2 separate regions of the Homo sapiens genome follow, and region 2 is linked to region 1. The links come from fine-mapping of genetic effects on gene expression. Tissue or cell type: B cells. Region 1 holds a variant in brackets; the other region holds the start of a gene. All regions are shown on one strand. Distances are between the middles of the regions.

Evidence for each region. PIP is the estimated chance that this variant, and not a neighbour inherited with it, causes the effect.
Region 2: it holds the start of RAB30, and the variant in region 1 is fine-mapped to the expression of RAB30 in B cells (Fairfax 2012, PIP 0.95). The same link has a PIP of 0.9 or more in whole blood.

Annotation. Positions count from the first base shown.
Region 1 is chr11:82,977,895-82,986,002 of GRCh38, reverse strand. RAB30 (RAB30, member RAS oncogene family) reads left to right here. Exons shown (of 5, transcript NM_001286060.2): 5 at 3,588-8,108. The coding sequence ends at 3,838. Among named protein-coding and RNA genes, the nearest start is that of SNORA70E, 60 kb to the left of the region's middle. The variant G/T (reference allele first, on the strand shown) is at 4,523.
Region 2 is chr11:83,066,927-83,075,019 of GRCh38, reverse strand. RAB30 (RAB30, member RAS oncogene family) reads left to right here and starts at 3,123. Exons shown (of 5, transcript NM_001286060.2): 1 at 3,123-3,329. RAB30-DT (RAB30 divergent transcript) reads right to left here and starts at 2,954. Exons shown (of 3, transcript NR_038903.1): 1 at 2,874-2,954; 2 at 2,216-2,397; 3 at 1,308-1,717. LINC02951 (long intergenic non-protein coding RNA 2951) reads left to right here. Exons shown (of 3, transcript NR_186233.1): 3 at 2,324-2,618. RefSeq lists enhancers at 2,681-3,170, 4,934-5,163, 5,184-5,233.

The DNA.
Region 1 (8,108 bases):
ATCCAAATAAGGTCCAGAAGCCGGGCATGGTGGCTCACACCTGTAATCTCAGTGTTCTGGGAAGCTGAGGCAGGAGGATTGCTTGAGCCCAGCAGTTCTGACCAGCCTGGGCAATGTAGCGAGATTAGCCAGGCATGATGGCATCTACCTGTGGTCCCAGCTACTCAGGAAGCTGAAGCAGGAGGATCACCTGAGCCCAGAAGTTGAAGGCTGCAGGGAGCTATGATCACACCACTGCATTCAGCCTGGGTGACAGAGCCAGACTCTTTAAAAAAAAAAAAAAAAAAAGCCAAGTAAGGTCCATATGTTGTAATTGACAGCTACATCTTTTCATCCTTTTTTATGAAGTTTCCACTCTCATTTTTTTTCTCTCTTAGAATTTTTTGCTAATGCATTTGTTTGACCTATAGGCTTTACAAGTCTAAATTTTGTTTTATCGCCCCAAGGTGTCATTTGATATCACCTCCATCACCTATATTTCTTGCAGATTTATAGATAAGTCTAGAGGCCTGATGAGAGTCAGGATTTTTTTGGTTTTCTTTTTAGACAAAACACTACATATATCATACTCTGAGGGGTAGTTCTCATAGAACAGGCAGGAAGAATGCTTGATTCTTTTTTGTTCACCACTTTTCAAGGTAATAAGCTGGTTCTCCAGTATCTTCTAAAAGTTAACTATTGACATCTGTTTATATTTGTAATATTATTATAAATTTATAGATTTAAATAGATTTGATGGGCTGGGCATGGTGACTCATGCCTGTAATCCCAACACTTTGGGAGGCTGAGGCGGGTGGATCACTTGAGGTCGGGAGTTTGAGACCAGCCTGGGCAACATGGTGAAACCCCATCTCTACTAAAATATACAAAAAATTAGCCAAGCATGCCTGTAATCCCAGCGGGAGGCCAAGGCAGGAGAATCTCTTGAACCTGGGAGACACAGGATACAGTGAGCCGAGATTGCACCACTGCACTCCAGCCTGGGCAACAGAGCGAGACTCTGTCTCAAAAACTAACTAAATAAGTAAATTTGATGTATTTCAGTCCCTTGCAATTATTATTATTGATGCTCCCATTGTTCCGACTTTGCCAGTGGGAGCTTCTTCAAATGGGCTCCTGAGTCCTTTTGACATGACCCCAGGAATGTTGGATAATTTTTTTGCTTTCTGGTATGACAAGTGTTCCAGCCACAACTTGTGCATTTCCTGCCCCAGACCTGGAATTAGCCATTTCTTCAAGAAGTGCTTTCTTTTCAATGGGAAGTCGTATTTAGAGGCCACAACCGAGGTGTTAGGAGCCCTCCTGATGGGCCATTGTTTTTAGGCCTTTCAGTGGACAGAGCTTGTGTGTATGTGTGCATGTGTGTGGTGGATTCTGTAGTATCCTCAAGAGAGTTTTCCTATTAGGTTCTGCTAGCGTTCCGACTCACAAGACTACCGTAGACCACGCGTGGCATCGTGTTCACTTAGAAGGACACAGGACAGGAAATACAGCTTGACAGCAGATCAGCATCCGGCAACCCTCTTCAGTGGAAGTAATCCCAGTAGCAGTCCACGTAATTTTCCAGGACCTCCTACCCAGTCCGCAACCCCCAGACGATTCTAGTATGAGGGAACAAGGCTCATGTCAAACAGATGGAGGATCTGCCTTGGCCTAGCAGCCTCAATACCCCATAGGAGACTAAATCTATTATAACAACTCCACAATCATAACTTCCAGGGTCTCTTCAAATGAAGTCACCACATTCAGGGAAGCTCAAAGTTATGGCTTTCCATTAGGTATTTATAATTCTTAGATAGAATTCCCAGGCCAGAAGTCATTTATCAATCAGGGGTCATTTTTACCATAAGCGGTGTTGCCAGATAATACAATTGACACACCTTTGTCAGGTTTCCTGGAGAATTTGAGGTAGGTGGAAAACTTTTTAAAGATAAAATACATCATGAATTATTCATACTGATACTTCTATTTATAATTCAGGACTGCAGAAATTTTACTTAACCACATTAATTTTATATTTATATTTCCTTTTTCCTATGCCAAAAGTCCCAGTTCCCAATGGTACCAGCATAATTACTCATTTGCTTTATCCCATAATACACAGATAGCAACCTCAGAATAATAATACCAACAGTACCACCAAAAAGATGATTACTGAAACAGTTCAAGATTGTTTCCTTCAATTCTTTTTGTCCTTAGGCTATATACCACTGGGGTTGCACTGTTAAATTACTGTATCTTAAGCACCTTGAAATAGTTACTCTGTTGGCCCGGCTCGGTGGCTCAATTGCGTGTAATCCCAGCACTTCTGGAGGCCGAGGCAGGTGGATCGCTTAAGCTCACAAGTTCAAGACCAGCCTGGACGTGGCGAAACTCTGTCTCTGCAAAAAATAAAAAAAAAAAATTAGCTGGGCATGGTAGTGCCTGCCTGTAGTCCCAGCTACTTGGGAGGCTGAGGTGGGAGAAGATGGCTTGAGCCCAGGAGGTGGAGTTGCAGCAAGTCAGGATCGCGCCACTGCCCTCCAGCCTGGGCAATAGAGCCAGACCTTGTCTCAGTTAAAAGAAAAAAAGGGTTACGGTCTGTGTGGTTATTCCACACATGATGAACATGTTCATTTGTTTAATTTTGCTCTCAGTTTTTAGGGATTGCTTTTTAAATTTAATTTTGAAATTAATTGTATAATTATATAAAGCATTTTTAAGTTCCTAAAGTAAAATCTACAAAACAAAGTATATTCAGAGAGGTCTGGTTTCTATTCCTTTCACCTCAACCCTGTTCCTTTCATAGGTAACCATTTTCTTTTAAATTAAGATTTTGGTCTAGTCTTCTATTAAAAAAATAAATAAAATGTGTGTATAATATATGTATTCATATCCTTCCCTTTTTCTTGGATAGACAGTTGCGTATTGTATATGCTTTTTTTTTCTGCTTCGCTTTTTTTTTGGTTAACAGTATATCCCAGTGTTTCCATTACATGGCAGTATATAGAAATACTCCTAATTGATTTTTATGGCAGCAAATACTCCATTGGGTGGATGTGCCATACTTTATTCAGTCAGTGCCCTACCGATGGACATTTGGGTTGTCTCCAGTTCTTGCCATTATGAATGGCACTCATTTTTTATTTATTTATTTTTTTTGAGACAGAGTCTCACTCTGTCACCCAAGCTAGAGTGCAGTGGCATGATCTCGACTCACTGCAACCTCTGCCTCTGGGGTTCAAGCGATTCTTCTGCCTCAGCCTCCCAAGTAGCTGGGACTACAGGTGCGTGCCACCACACCTGGCTAATTTTTGTATTTTTAGTAGAGACGGGGTTTCACCATATTGGCCAGGCTAGTCTCGAACTCCTGACCTGGTGATCCACCCGCCTTGGCCTCCTAAAGTGCTGGGATTACAGGTGTGAGCCACTGCGCCCAGCTGGCACTCATATTTTAAAGTAAACATTTCAGTAATCACAGTCACATTTGTTTTGTTTTACTCGCCCATCTGTCTGGCTTGACTTCAGATATGGAGTTGAATTTTGATGCTTCTCAGCCTGCAAAAAGTCAAATGCTGATTCTTTATTTGATTTTACTACTGTTATAGGCAACAAGATTGACCTGGCTGAAAGGAGAGAGGTTTCCCAGCAGCGAGCTGAAGAATTCTCAGAAGCTCAGGACATGTATTATCTGGAGACCTCAGCCAAGGAATCTGATAATGTGGAGAAACTCTTCCTTGACTTAGCATGCCGACTCATCAGTGAAGCCAGACAGAACACACTTGTGAACAATGTATCCTCACCCTTACCTGGAGAAGGGAAAAGCATCAGCTATTTGACTTGTTGTAATTTCAACTAAAGGCTGAGGCACGGAGAAGAAAAGGAATCAGCAACTGCCCTGATGGGCCATGAGATGCTGGGGAGATCTGGCGATGACTGTGGCTCCCGCTCTCTGACCTTCTGACTCCTGTGGGCTCCTGAGCTTACAAAGCATGGCAGGCCAAGGGCCTCGACCACAGGCCAGCATTAGCAGAACATATAATGGTTTCACCCTTTTCCAGTCTGGAGTTGGAGCAAGGAGAAAATTGCACTAGGCACTCCATGATCTGCAGAGCATGTTGCTTTTGTTTTTTTAAAAAGCAAGTAAAAGCGCATTCCTAAACAGAGTCCGGGGGGAAATGTACTGTAGGGATCCCTCCTGCACATCAGTGGGTGCATGTGGGAACTCTTCTTTAGGGCTTCGGTGGTAATCATCTGGGGGCCCTGGTTTTCTTGTCTACCAGATAAACCAAAACTGGGAAGGCCAAGTACAGTCTCTGTGGTGCGTATTGACGACCCCATGGAGATTTTGAAAAGTGTTATTTCTCTTGTCCACAGGCACTTTCAAGAACTTTGGGATGTAAAAATGAAATGAAACCTTTACCCATGACCAACAGTAACAATCATTGTTTTAATAATATATACAAGCTCCATAACTCCTTTTGGTGCTAATGATTCCGCTATTTCACAGACCAAACGTTTTAGTACATTAATGTCCTTAAAT[G/T]TGTTATATAGAAATAAAAAAATGGGGGAAGTCCATGAATCAGCACTCTTTCTCAAAGTCTCATTACTACCTTTTTAAAGGTGGATTTTTGGGAAAAGAGAATACTTTTCCTTTTATGTTCCCCTCTGAATCTCTACCACTTTCTTGTCTCTCCAGCCCTTTATGTAAATGAAAACGTTTGCAAAATGAAAAAAATAAACAAATGGTTGATGACATTCTAATATAAAAACTTAGCTCTAACACATTTTGAGTAGTATGAGGAAACAGACCAGATATGACCAAAATACTGTGGATTAATGGACTGTAGTGCAGGGCTCCTAGCAGAGCACAGTCCTTGATAGTAGGTCACATCTTTTACTTCCTGGTACTCTCCATCTTGGACAGACCAAGGCTTAGGATTTTGTAGATTTTTTAGTATGATAAGTGAGAATAGCAACAGATGAAAAGTCTCACGACCCATTTTTATATCTTCGATGATAACCTTAGAAAAATTCTGCTCGTGGAAGCAGATTGAACTGTCATTTATCCCCTCCTTCTTGTAATAATGTTACCTTCAGACGCTTAACCATATGTTCTTTCTTTTTTCTTTCTCTTTTCCTCTCTATTTTTCTGGTCTCTCCTTTTCTTCTTCCCTCCCTCCCTCCCTCCTTCCCTCCCATCCTTATATGCCTGTGTTACTGCAAATCTCCAATTCAAATGGAGGTGTATATGCCTTTACTTAGCCAATTTAAAAACAGGACTCAAAATGGGAGATGTGCTGCTGAATATGTGTTTCTTTTTCTTCAGTGCCATACTTTGATAGCTTCCAATTTGTTCACTGATATAAATGCAAATTGGGAAAATAATTAAACCTGTATGCTGTTGATGCTGTCAGATGTTTCTGTAGCTTGCTGCTTAGCATAACTGAGGGATGAGTAATGGAATAAGGATATGATGTGTAATTCCACTGTTGCTGTAGATGGTGACAATCTCAGTTCTGATATGTTGATGTTTGAAAGCTATTTAATTGTAAAGAAATTAGTCATGTAGAGACATGATGTGGATAAAGCATTTCTGGCATTTCTCTAGCAGGTTCTAGATTGACCAGTGTCTTGCACATGAGATTATGCATATTTTTTAAGGGGCTGATACTTTTGGTTGGCCTCACTGTGTTTTTCCTGATCCTGTGGGAAAGAGAAAGGCATCCCAGAAGTTTGACTTGTTTTTCTTTTAGAATCTGTCTCTGCAGGAAAGAAAAGTCATTTTAATAAAAACCAAAATAATTTATAATAATTGTTGCCTTTCCCTCCCCATCCTCTCCACTAAGCCAGCAACTAAATGTATTCAGAAAACAAGTTAATCAAGGAGGGCAGAAGAATTTTTTTTAAACTGTAAGAAAATGTTCCTAAGTTTAGATTTATTACCTGTCATTTAGGGCAAAAATCCAGTGTCCCCAGCACATGATGACCCAACTTTGTCTCACAGTTGCAAGTGTGTTGAAAATAAAGTTGCTTTGTGAACTTAGAGGAAATGGCTGTGTTAGATTGGACTGATTTAGTTGCAAAATAATACCTTTTAGGGTCACACTTGTATTATTCCCTAGGGTTTAGCCTTCTCTATATACCCTTGGCCAGACTCAGAAGGGGATTAAAAAGCTCTGGTCTTGGCCTCTATCTTCCTTGTTGCTCCTCCCAGCCTTTCCATAACTTACCCATCCACAGCCCATCAGCAGGAACACATGAGAATGTGGGACTTTGTTTCTTTTTTTCTTAGTTGTATGAATTCCAGATTAGGCCTTATGGATACTTGTCTACTAATATATCTGAAGTTTGAAAACAATCCCTGACAATATTGTAGGTGCAATAAATATTAGTCAAATAAACATTTAAGTGCCAAGGTGGGGTGGTAGTGGTTGGGGGAGCTTTTTTTGATTAAACAGAAATTCCTTCAAGTAGAACTTGAGAAAGGACACTAAATACAGTCATCTTAACCCAGGCCAGAACCTAAATTTATTGGTTTGCCTAACAGTCTTATTGTCATGGCAATATTTGCTAAGATGAGCCTTCTTTAGATAAAAATGAACTCTCATTTAGTGGTGGATGAAAAAAGAGAAATTGCTTTATCATATAGTTTAATTTGGCTCGGTCTACTAAGACCACCAGGGTTGATGTATTCCTCCATTTTTGGTGTGATCTTTTTCTTCATTCAATAAAGTTATTAAATATATGGCAAAACTTTTTTCAGTTTCCAGTGAAAATGCATGATACTCATGTCATGGAGTCAGGCTTGGGAAAATCTATGAAATAATAGTTTGCTGATAATGATATTTTCTTATGGCTTTGTATAGACTACATCCTCAAAGGATTTTGTGCTTCTTTGCCCATAGAAGGCTTTTTCTCCCTTTGTGTGCTTTTATTAAATCTGTTGAATTATATTAATATTTTTTGAATTTACAGGGCCAATTATCTTTTTTGATGGATTACTTAGATTAGGCCATGGGTTCTTCCTGGCCTTTCTTTTTCTCGGTCTTTTAATCATTTCACGTTTTTATCTCTCCCTGAGTAAAGTGGCAAGAAAACTAAAAATGAAAGTTAAATGGGTTGATTTGACAATGTGTCAAGTTCTGATTTAGAGTTTATAAGGAAGGTAGAAACGATTGGCCAAAATAAGATATTTGGATGAGGATTATTTAAGCCGTTTAGATTTGGCCAGAGACGCCAGATTTAGCAAAGGACTGGGTTCTTATCTTCTTTCATTCATGAATATATGCCTTGGGAGGACACTGGTGATTCCCACAGAATTAGGCCAATGATTTGCCACATTACCCTTTAAGCTAGCCCATAATTCCACCAGATCCCACACCAAGTTTCAGTTCATGACTCATACTGAATAAACGTCAGTTGTAAATGATGTTTGAATTGGTCTTCCTACTAAAGTGAAACATCTTCTTTTAAGCCAAGCCACATGAATGAAATAGCACAATCAGAAAAAAATCTTTTTTTTTTTTTTTGCATATCAAACCAATGGCCTTCTCCACTAAGCCAGCAACTAAAGGTATTCAGAAAACAAGTTAATCAAGGTGGGCAGAACTTTTTGAACTGTGAGGAAATGTTCCTAAGTTTAGATTTATTACCTGTCATTTAGGGCAAAAATCTAATGTCTTTTTTATTTCTTAATCTTGTAGAACTCTGTATTTCATAGTAATGAGTACTTAGGGATCATTGCTCTATTAGCCTCTGGGAGAGATCTTCTAGAGTTTGCCATTCCTTTTTTTCCAAAATTTTTTGTTGTTGTTGTTGTTGTTTTAACTGCAACTGGTTACTTTTCTCAACCATGGTCCTGACATGTTTATACTATGATACTTTTGAGACTTCGCTAAAGAATTAAAAGCTGTGAAACAACATTTGCTTCTCATCCTTCAGACAAAATGTGTTCCATTTAAGCAGCATGGTTAAACACTAATTTTGGGATAAGGGAGGGATATGTTTTCTTTACTTTCTTTTTGGATTTCATTTCTGTGGCATGAGCCTATTTGCGTTTGGAAGGAAAGATGCCTTCCTTTACATTCTTCACACTGGTAATTTTTTCATACTGAATTAAGAAATTA
Region 2 (8,093 bases), 89 kb before region 1:
CCAACTCTTGTAGACTCACCTATAGTTTTAAAAACACAATACTTGGTTCTAACCCTGGAGATTTCAACAGGGATGGGAAGGTAACAGCCATATACTTTTAGAGCTGTATAGGTTATCCTGACACCTCTACTGAAAAAAACCCTTGCTCTAACAGCAATTGGCTTCATACTCTTAAATGAGCTACCTATAATTTTAATACAAATCCATGTCCTAATTCTCTTTATTATTTTTTTGAGATAGGGTCTTGCTGTTGCCCAGGCTGGAGTACAGTGGCTCAATCTCTGCTCACTGCCACCTCCACCTCCCCAGTTCAAGCGATTCTCCTGCCTCAGCCACCCTAGTAGCTGGTATTACAGGCGCACGCCACCACACCTGGCTAACTTTTCTATTTCTTGGAGATGGGGTTTCGCCATGTTGGCCAGGCTGGTCTTGAACTCCTGGCCCCAAGTGATGTGCCCATCTCGGCCTCCCAAAGTGCTAGGATTACAGGTGTCAGCCACTGTGCCTGGCCCTAATTCTTTTTTGAGAGATGAAAAGCTTTACCTCCTCTAGATATTCCTAATTCCACTTTAACAATATTTTCCTAAGTTGTGGTGTTTCTATGGGACACTGTTATTTTTTCAGAAGCTGGCCTCCCCAACTCCTCAAATATCAATTTTATAAATAAAATTTATAATGAGTGCAGGATTTTTTCATCTTTATGGTCAGATGTCCATTAGATACAAGGATAGAAAAACTTCAAACTACCCAAACACATGACAAATTATAGAAATCACTGTATTCTAGAGGTATCACTTCTCAAACACAAGCTTTCTTTCTTTTTTAAAAACAGACATAGTCTCACTGTTGTCCAGATTGGAGTACAGTGACACAATCATAGCTCACTGCAGCCTCAAACTAATGGGATCAAGTGATCCTCCTGCCTCAGCCTCCCAAGTAGCTAAGCCTACTGGCATGCACTACTATGCCCAGCTCACACAGAAGGTTTCTGAGTAATCTGTTGCTCTTTTTCCCTACAATTTGTCTTCCATATAACTCAAACTGACAAGGCTATGGCTTACATAAAGAAATATATTATAAATCAACAACACTCATGATAAGTTTACATAAGACATGAGAATACACCTGAATCACCAACCGGGAAAAATGATTGAAGAGCTTGAAATTAAGCCTAAGTGTAAGTCTCTGTTAAGCTTACAACATTACAATAGTTAAATCGAAGGTTAGAAAGAAAATGGTAGACATTGCTCCTTTTCCTGTACTTACCACCATTACTTAGAGAAGTTTCTGAATAACAACAACTTTGAGCCTTTTTCATTGTTGTATTCATGGATGACACCAACACATACTACTTCTGCTTAAAAATCAAACTCATTCATCTTGACTTGTTCCCAGAAACATGACACAGAAGATCATTTTTTGAAAAAGTATTTTTGTAATTACCATCTGCATACACCTGAGAGACTGTTTCTAACATGTTTTGGTCATTTTTAATCATTCTATCTGCCTTTCTTTGTTATAAGGATCTATTTTTAATTTTATTCACTCCTAACATAGAGGGGAAGTGCATACCTTCAATGACGCAAAGTAACTAGTTAATGTTGTTTCAGAATAATATGCAAAAGGGAAGGGAGGAAACAGCACAAAGTATATCATATTTTTACACATCAGACACCTTCAGGAAGAAAGGACATTTCTCATCTTAGTGTGACAGACTCTGAAAAAGAACACACAGCACTGTTTCAGTGACACAAGAAAAAAAGTACAGTTCATTTTGAGATACTGTGCAAAATCACTCAAAAGACAATTAACTTTGGTTTCAGTCACTTAGTTAAAAAAAAAATTTATCCATGACCGATGTTACTCTGGAATCTATTGCCAGACGTCAGAAGGCCTATCATCAATAATATCCCACCCCTCCCGCCTTTTCTGAGACACGGGCTTGCTGTCGCCCAGGCTGGAGCACAGTGGTAGGATCGAGGCTCACTGCAGCCTCAACATCCCGGGCTCAAGCGATCCTCCCACCTCAGCCTCTAGTGTAGCTGCAACTACAGGGGTACACCACCATGCCCAGCTAATTTTTTTGTTTAATGTTTTTGTAGAGACGGTACGGGGTCTCCGCATGTTGCCCAGGCTGGGGTTGAACTCCTAGAATCACGCTATCTCCCCGCGTCTGCCCCCAAAGTGCTGGGATTAAAGGCGTGAGCGACCGCACCTGGCCAATATCCCCTTTGAACATCTGCTTTCGCTGGTTGGTAAAAAAGTGTCATTTTAAATTTAGTGTTACTCCTTCAGGCTATTCCCTCTCTCTTCTTACTTGCAGGGCCAAAGCAACGTCTCTTTCCACCTTGGTCACCTTCCAACAACGATTTCTTCGGACGCCTTTGTTAATCATTCCTGTATGAAAAATCAGTGAATCTGAAGCTTTGGGGAGAGTGAAAGGGGGTTGGAAAACAAACGGCAAAACAAAAATGCATTTCGGAGGACTACCCCAACTCTGTGGGTGGAAGTGGGCTTCTCCGAATAAAGGCGAGGGTCGCCGCCTCGGGTCCTCGCACCTCAACAAAAGACACCAACTCTCTCAACTGTACTGTTAACAGATCTAAATGATACTCCAAGCCCAAAAGTAAACCGACTCTCTCAATCTCTTAGCTAAAAAATGGAGAAGGAAGCGTAGGGCCCCATGCAACCCCTTCAGGAGCTGAGACCGAGGCTCACTGGGCCTCTGGATGCCGCTTCCAGTCGGTCCCGCCCTACATCAGTCCCCAGCATGGCCTCCACCCTCTGGTTCCCAGGTTCGTGCCCGCGGCTATCCGACCAGATCGTCCTCCACCTCACCGTCCCCACTGAACCACCACTTGACTCCTGCGCACCCCTAAAACCTCTGCCCGGCTCCGCGGAATCGTCCCAGTACTCCTAACATGGCGGCCGAGTCCCCTTTGCTCCTTCACTCTGGGCGCGTCCCACTTGGAGCATTTTGGGCATTGTAGTTTCGGGGATTGCCTGGGTATCCCTTCAGGACGTAAGAAGACTACAGTTCCCAGAAAGCACCGCTCCCGAGCATGGCTATTGGGGACGTTTGGACAGAGGGATGATGTCATTGCAAAAGCCCCACTGCATTCATTGTGCTACGGTCTCTCCACCCCCTGCTGCTGCTGGGCTTGCGATTGCCGCTCGCTCCAGCTGAGCTAAGTGTAGCAGCAGCACCAGGGCAGGGACTGACTCCAGCCCTTGGACTCAGGACATCGCAGACCTTCCCTTGCGTGCGTGACTCATTCGCACATCCATTTCTGTTTATGCCTGGGGTGGGGAGAAAAATCCCAAACCAGGTGAGTTGAAGTGATTTATTCAAATGCTTCTACCAAGTTATTCCTCCCGCTTAGTTCTCAAGGCTTTCTTTTGGGAAGCTGTGAGCGGTGGGGAGGTGGGGGGGATTGGGGAGAGGCTTGCAGGCACAGCTAAGGGGAAAAGCTCTGTGCCATTTGGGTCACTGCAAAGAACAACTCCAGCAACCTTCCCCCGCCAGAGGACGGGTGCCTGCCAATTCCCTAGTCGCAACTCCTCTCAACCTTTTTGAGGCGGAGAGAGGGGGCTGGGCTGGGAAGGATGTTGGGGAGTGCTCTTGGAAAATCTGAGGAAGGCAGAGGTGGGGGACTGCAGTCCTGTCACACACGGCCCGAGAGCTGAGGTTTGAGTGGGAAGGGGTGATGCGTGGGGAGAAATGGAGACAGTGAATTAATGTGGTCGCACTACTTTAGAACATTTGAATGTCGCTTGGACGAGCACTAGTTATTAATTTTTAAGATGAACGTGCTTAAGTTTTGTAGGGCTTTATTTTATGTGTGTATGTCTATGTGGTTTGTCTCGCCTTTTCTGCTGATTTGAGGTGACAGTGTCCTTTAATGGTGCACTCCGTGCCAGTCAGAAACATTTCACGTGTCTGGCGAAGGTTCTTTCAGGCTGCTGGAAGCAGCGTTTTTGTTAAATGTTTTCCGTTCTCCGACTGCTGGATTCAAGATTGTTTGGAAGTGGAGCCGACAGATTTGTGCTTGTGTGTTTTAAATTACATTGCATAGGCTCTTTGCCACTGACAATGGTACCATAATGAGCTGCTGTTTCCTGAGGCATAGTCACTACTCACAAATAACGGTTTGAAGAGATCGATTAGGGAAGAGGGGTTCATTTTAACACATTAGAGAAAGGGAAAGTTAGAAGCGCTGTTAACCTTCATTTGCCATTACTGAAAGGTGCCCATGGAAGAGTGATTTTGGTTGTTTTGTTATTGTTGTTTTTTTAAACGAACTGACATTTAACAGGAGAGAAAGCATTCTGACTTACATGATGCTCTTGTAAGAGTTATAGGGATAATTAGGGCAATAGATATGTTACTTTGAGATAAACAGCTGGCTGGCTCCACAACAGATGGGGCCAGTCTTGGCTGAGAGATCTACACCCTTGGAAATGAATGGGCCTGGGGTCAACCACACCCCCTCTTGGAATGTCAAAAGAAGGAGAAATGCCAGAGTATTTGCTTAACTCTAGAATGCTAAACCTTTTCCTAGCTGAGTCAGACATGGGCGAAATTCTTTACTGGCTGTCTTCTGCTGCTAAGCCAATTTTGTTCATTTTAAATTCAGATCCTTAGGTCTCCAAAGTTGTAGCTGTGTGATATTTCATTAAATGCTGCTTGATGCTGAATGCAAAGGACAGTCCATTGTATGGGCTTTGTAGTAGAGTGATTTATTGGGATGCCAATGAGCAGCTTTTGGATTTGGGAAAAGATCAACAGTTAGCCTTTGCCTCTGCGTCTCTCTGTTGATGACGCTCTGCTCTTCTGGACACCCTACCCTTCTCTCCTGTACTTTCATTTCTTCCCCCCACCCCACCCCATCCCACCCACATCTCTTGAAATTCTGTTTATTTCTCTATCTCTCCATTTGCAGTTTACATTTTTCCTTTCTGTTTCAAAACCCCTCCTTTATCACCAGCATATCACATCTCTTTCTCTTCAATCTTAGAACACACTCCCTGGTCCTCCACTTCAACTAGGAACTCCTGGGTGGATGTAGACTATGTGAATATTTTTGCAGAATCCTCTTTGAAGAGAATTTCTTTGCCTTTTCTTTTTCTTGCAGTCTGTGCTTGGCAGGATGAGCAGCAATGAGCCTGACCCCTGGTCTGGTTTGTAGTTCCTGTGACAGACATAATTTAGCCCCAGCAGCATGTGAACAATGAAATGCTGCAGTTGGGCTCATGCCACTTTTCCTTTCACTGGCACCTGCCTATGGATTAGCAAGGTTTTTAAATGCTCTACATGAAATGTTCTCATAATTCCCAAGGAATAAGTAGTCTTCAAGTGGCTTGCCTTATACAATACATTTTTTTTTTCCTTATCCTTGCTGCAGCTGGTGGTGGGAAGGCTGATCTTTCCCCCCTCTTTCTTCCTGTTCCCTGTGGATTGCTGAGTAGCAATCCAGGTGGCCAAACTGCCCATTTGGTTTTTTGAAGATACTTGGAGGACAACAGTTCCCCACCCACCCTGGTTGTTTCTTCTCCTCTGTGCAGGAAAGAAGTTTGTTATTTTATTCTCTTCTCTTAACGGGAAGAGTGTGATAGTGGCTATATTTGTTTATGTAACAGCAGTGCTCCTCTAGGTGTGGAAAGTCTAACTGCTATCCATCTGGAGGCAACTAGTGTAACAGGCAGATTCAGAAGCTGTCCTCTTAGACCTTTTATGCACCATCTTCTCATTCCTAATTTTCTTCTTCTGAAATACTTCCTTACCCACCAAAGTTTCTTTTATTGTCCTAGGGAGGAGAAATGGGCTGAATGTAGTGTTAGATTTGGCCTCATCACTGCTGTCTCTGGGACCTTAAATAACTATTCATTTCTTTCTGCTTCGGTTTACTTATTTGCAAAGGGATAATGATCCTTGCTCTTTGGTTTACTGATGTTATAGCCCTCTATAATCTGGCCCCAACCTATAATTCTGACAATTTATATTGATTGAGCAGCTACCATGTACTAAGCACTGTGGATACATCAGTGAAAACAAATGCTTTCCCTGACTTCATGGAGCTTATATTCTAATAGGGGATATACTTAATAAATAATTGCAAGTGTGATGAATGCCATTTCCAAAAGGGTTGGGTAGGAGTGCCTGACATGGTACTTTCCCCTTGTCTAGGGTTATCAGGAAAGGTTTCCTATAGGAAGTGACACTTCAAGAGACTTGGAGGGTAAACGGAAGTAGTAATTCAGGATGGCAGTGGGAGATGCTTATAGTGGGACAAAGGTTTCTGGCAGAGGGAACTTCATGTTCAAAGTTCAAAGGGAAGAGTGGTGAACCTGAGGATTTGAAAGGAAGTTAGAGACAGAGCAAGAGGAGAAAGACTAGAATGAAGAATGAGGCTGGAGAGGTGGGCAGAGGCTAGAGAGTAGGCAGTTCTTTGAGCTACAGGTGTATTTTGGTCTTTATCCTAAGGCTAATGAGAACCTAGCCTGGCTTTAAAAAACTAGATGAATGGCATATGTAGGATGATATTAAAATATTATCCTGGCTGTTAAGTAGAGGAGATTGAAGGAAAGACTTGGTCAGAGTGAATGTGTAGAGACCAAGTAGCAAATAATTTTTGTCGTCTGTATGAGGGATGATGGTGCTTAGATCTAGGGTGGTGACAGAGGGTTTAGAGAGACACTAAGTTTTTTGTTTTTTTTTTTTGAGACAGAGTTTTGCTCTTGTTGCCCTTGCTGGAGTACAATGGCGCAATCTCGGCTCATTGCAACCTCCGCCTCCCAGGTTCAAGCAGTTCTCCTGCCTCAGCCTCCCTATTGTCTGGGATTACAGGTGCCCGCCACCATGCTCAGCTAACGTTTGTATTTTTTTTTTTTTTTTTGAGACAGAGTCTCACTCTGTCGCCCAGGCTGAAGTGCAGTGGCATGATCACAGCTCACTGCAGCCTCCATCTCTGGATTCAAGCGATTCTCCTGCCTCAGCCTCCCAAGTAGTTGAGATTACAGGCACCCACCACTCCCAGCTAATTTTTATATATTTAGTAGAGATAGGGTCTCACCATGCTGGCCAGGCTGATCTCTCAAACTCCTGACCTCAAATGGTCCACCCGCCTCAGCCTCCCAAAGTGCTGGGACTACAGGCGTGAGCCACCGCACCTGGCAACTTTTGTATTTTTAGTAGAGATGGGGTTTCACCATGTTGGCCAGGCTGGTCTCGAACTCCTGACCTCAGGTGATCCACCTGCCTCTGCCTCCCAAAGTTCTGGGATTACAAGCATGAGCCACCATGCCCGGCCGACACTAACTTTGAAAATTGTAATTGATAAGATTTGTTGATTGATTGGATGGGGGGATAGGGAGAAAAGGGAGTCATGAAATGACTTGAGTTTTTTTCTTGAGCAACTGGGGATGACGTTTTCAGAGAAAGAGAACACTGAATGGGAACCAGGTCTTTTTGTTTTCCGAAGGGAGGACCTTTGGACATGCTGAGTTTGAGGTTCCTGGAAGACATCTAAGATCTTTCACTCTTGCTGTCCATGTGTAGGATGTGGCATGATGGAGTAGAAGAGAGCTCTGGACGAGGCTTTCTCACACTGGACACTGCTTATTTATTAGCTGTATGATGTTGGACATATCACATTTTTTTTTCTGAGCTTTAGTTTCCTCATCTGTACAATGTATTTATTCCAATAGTTTATACTTACCCCAGCATGGAAAACAACAGTATACTCAGTTTACTTATTTGTTATAACAGTTTTCCATGCACCATGCTAGGAAAACAACATTGAATAAGATACTGTTTACTTCGGAGGAATTCACTCAGGTGAGGGAGACAAACGTAAATAATCACGTACAAAGAGGTACTTTGGCAATACTAGGCTAGGGGGTAGGGGTGATGGGTGCGGGAGGCATCCACACCTTTGATCCTAGACATGAAGGCAAGCAAAAGCGCTCCAGACTGTGTTTCCAGGCACCCAACAGAATGCCTCACACAAATTAGGGACTCTAAATGTTGGTAGAGTGAGTGAATTAACCTAAGTCACTAAGGGCCTATTCAAAAGCAGGAAATATCAACACAT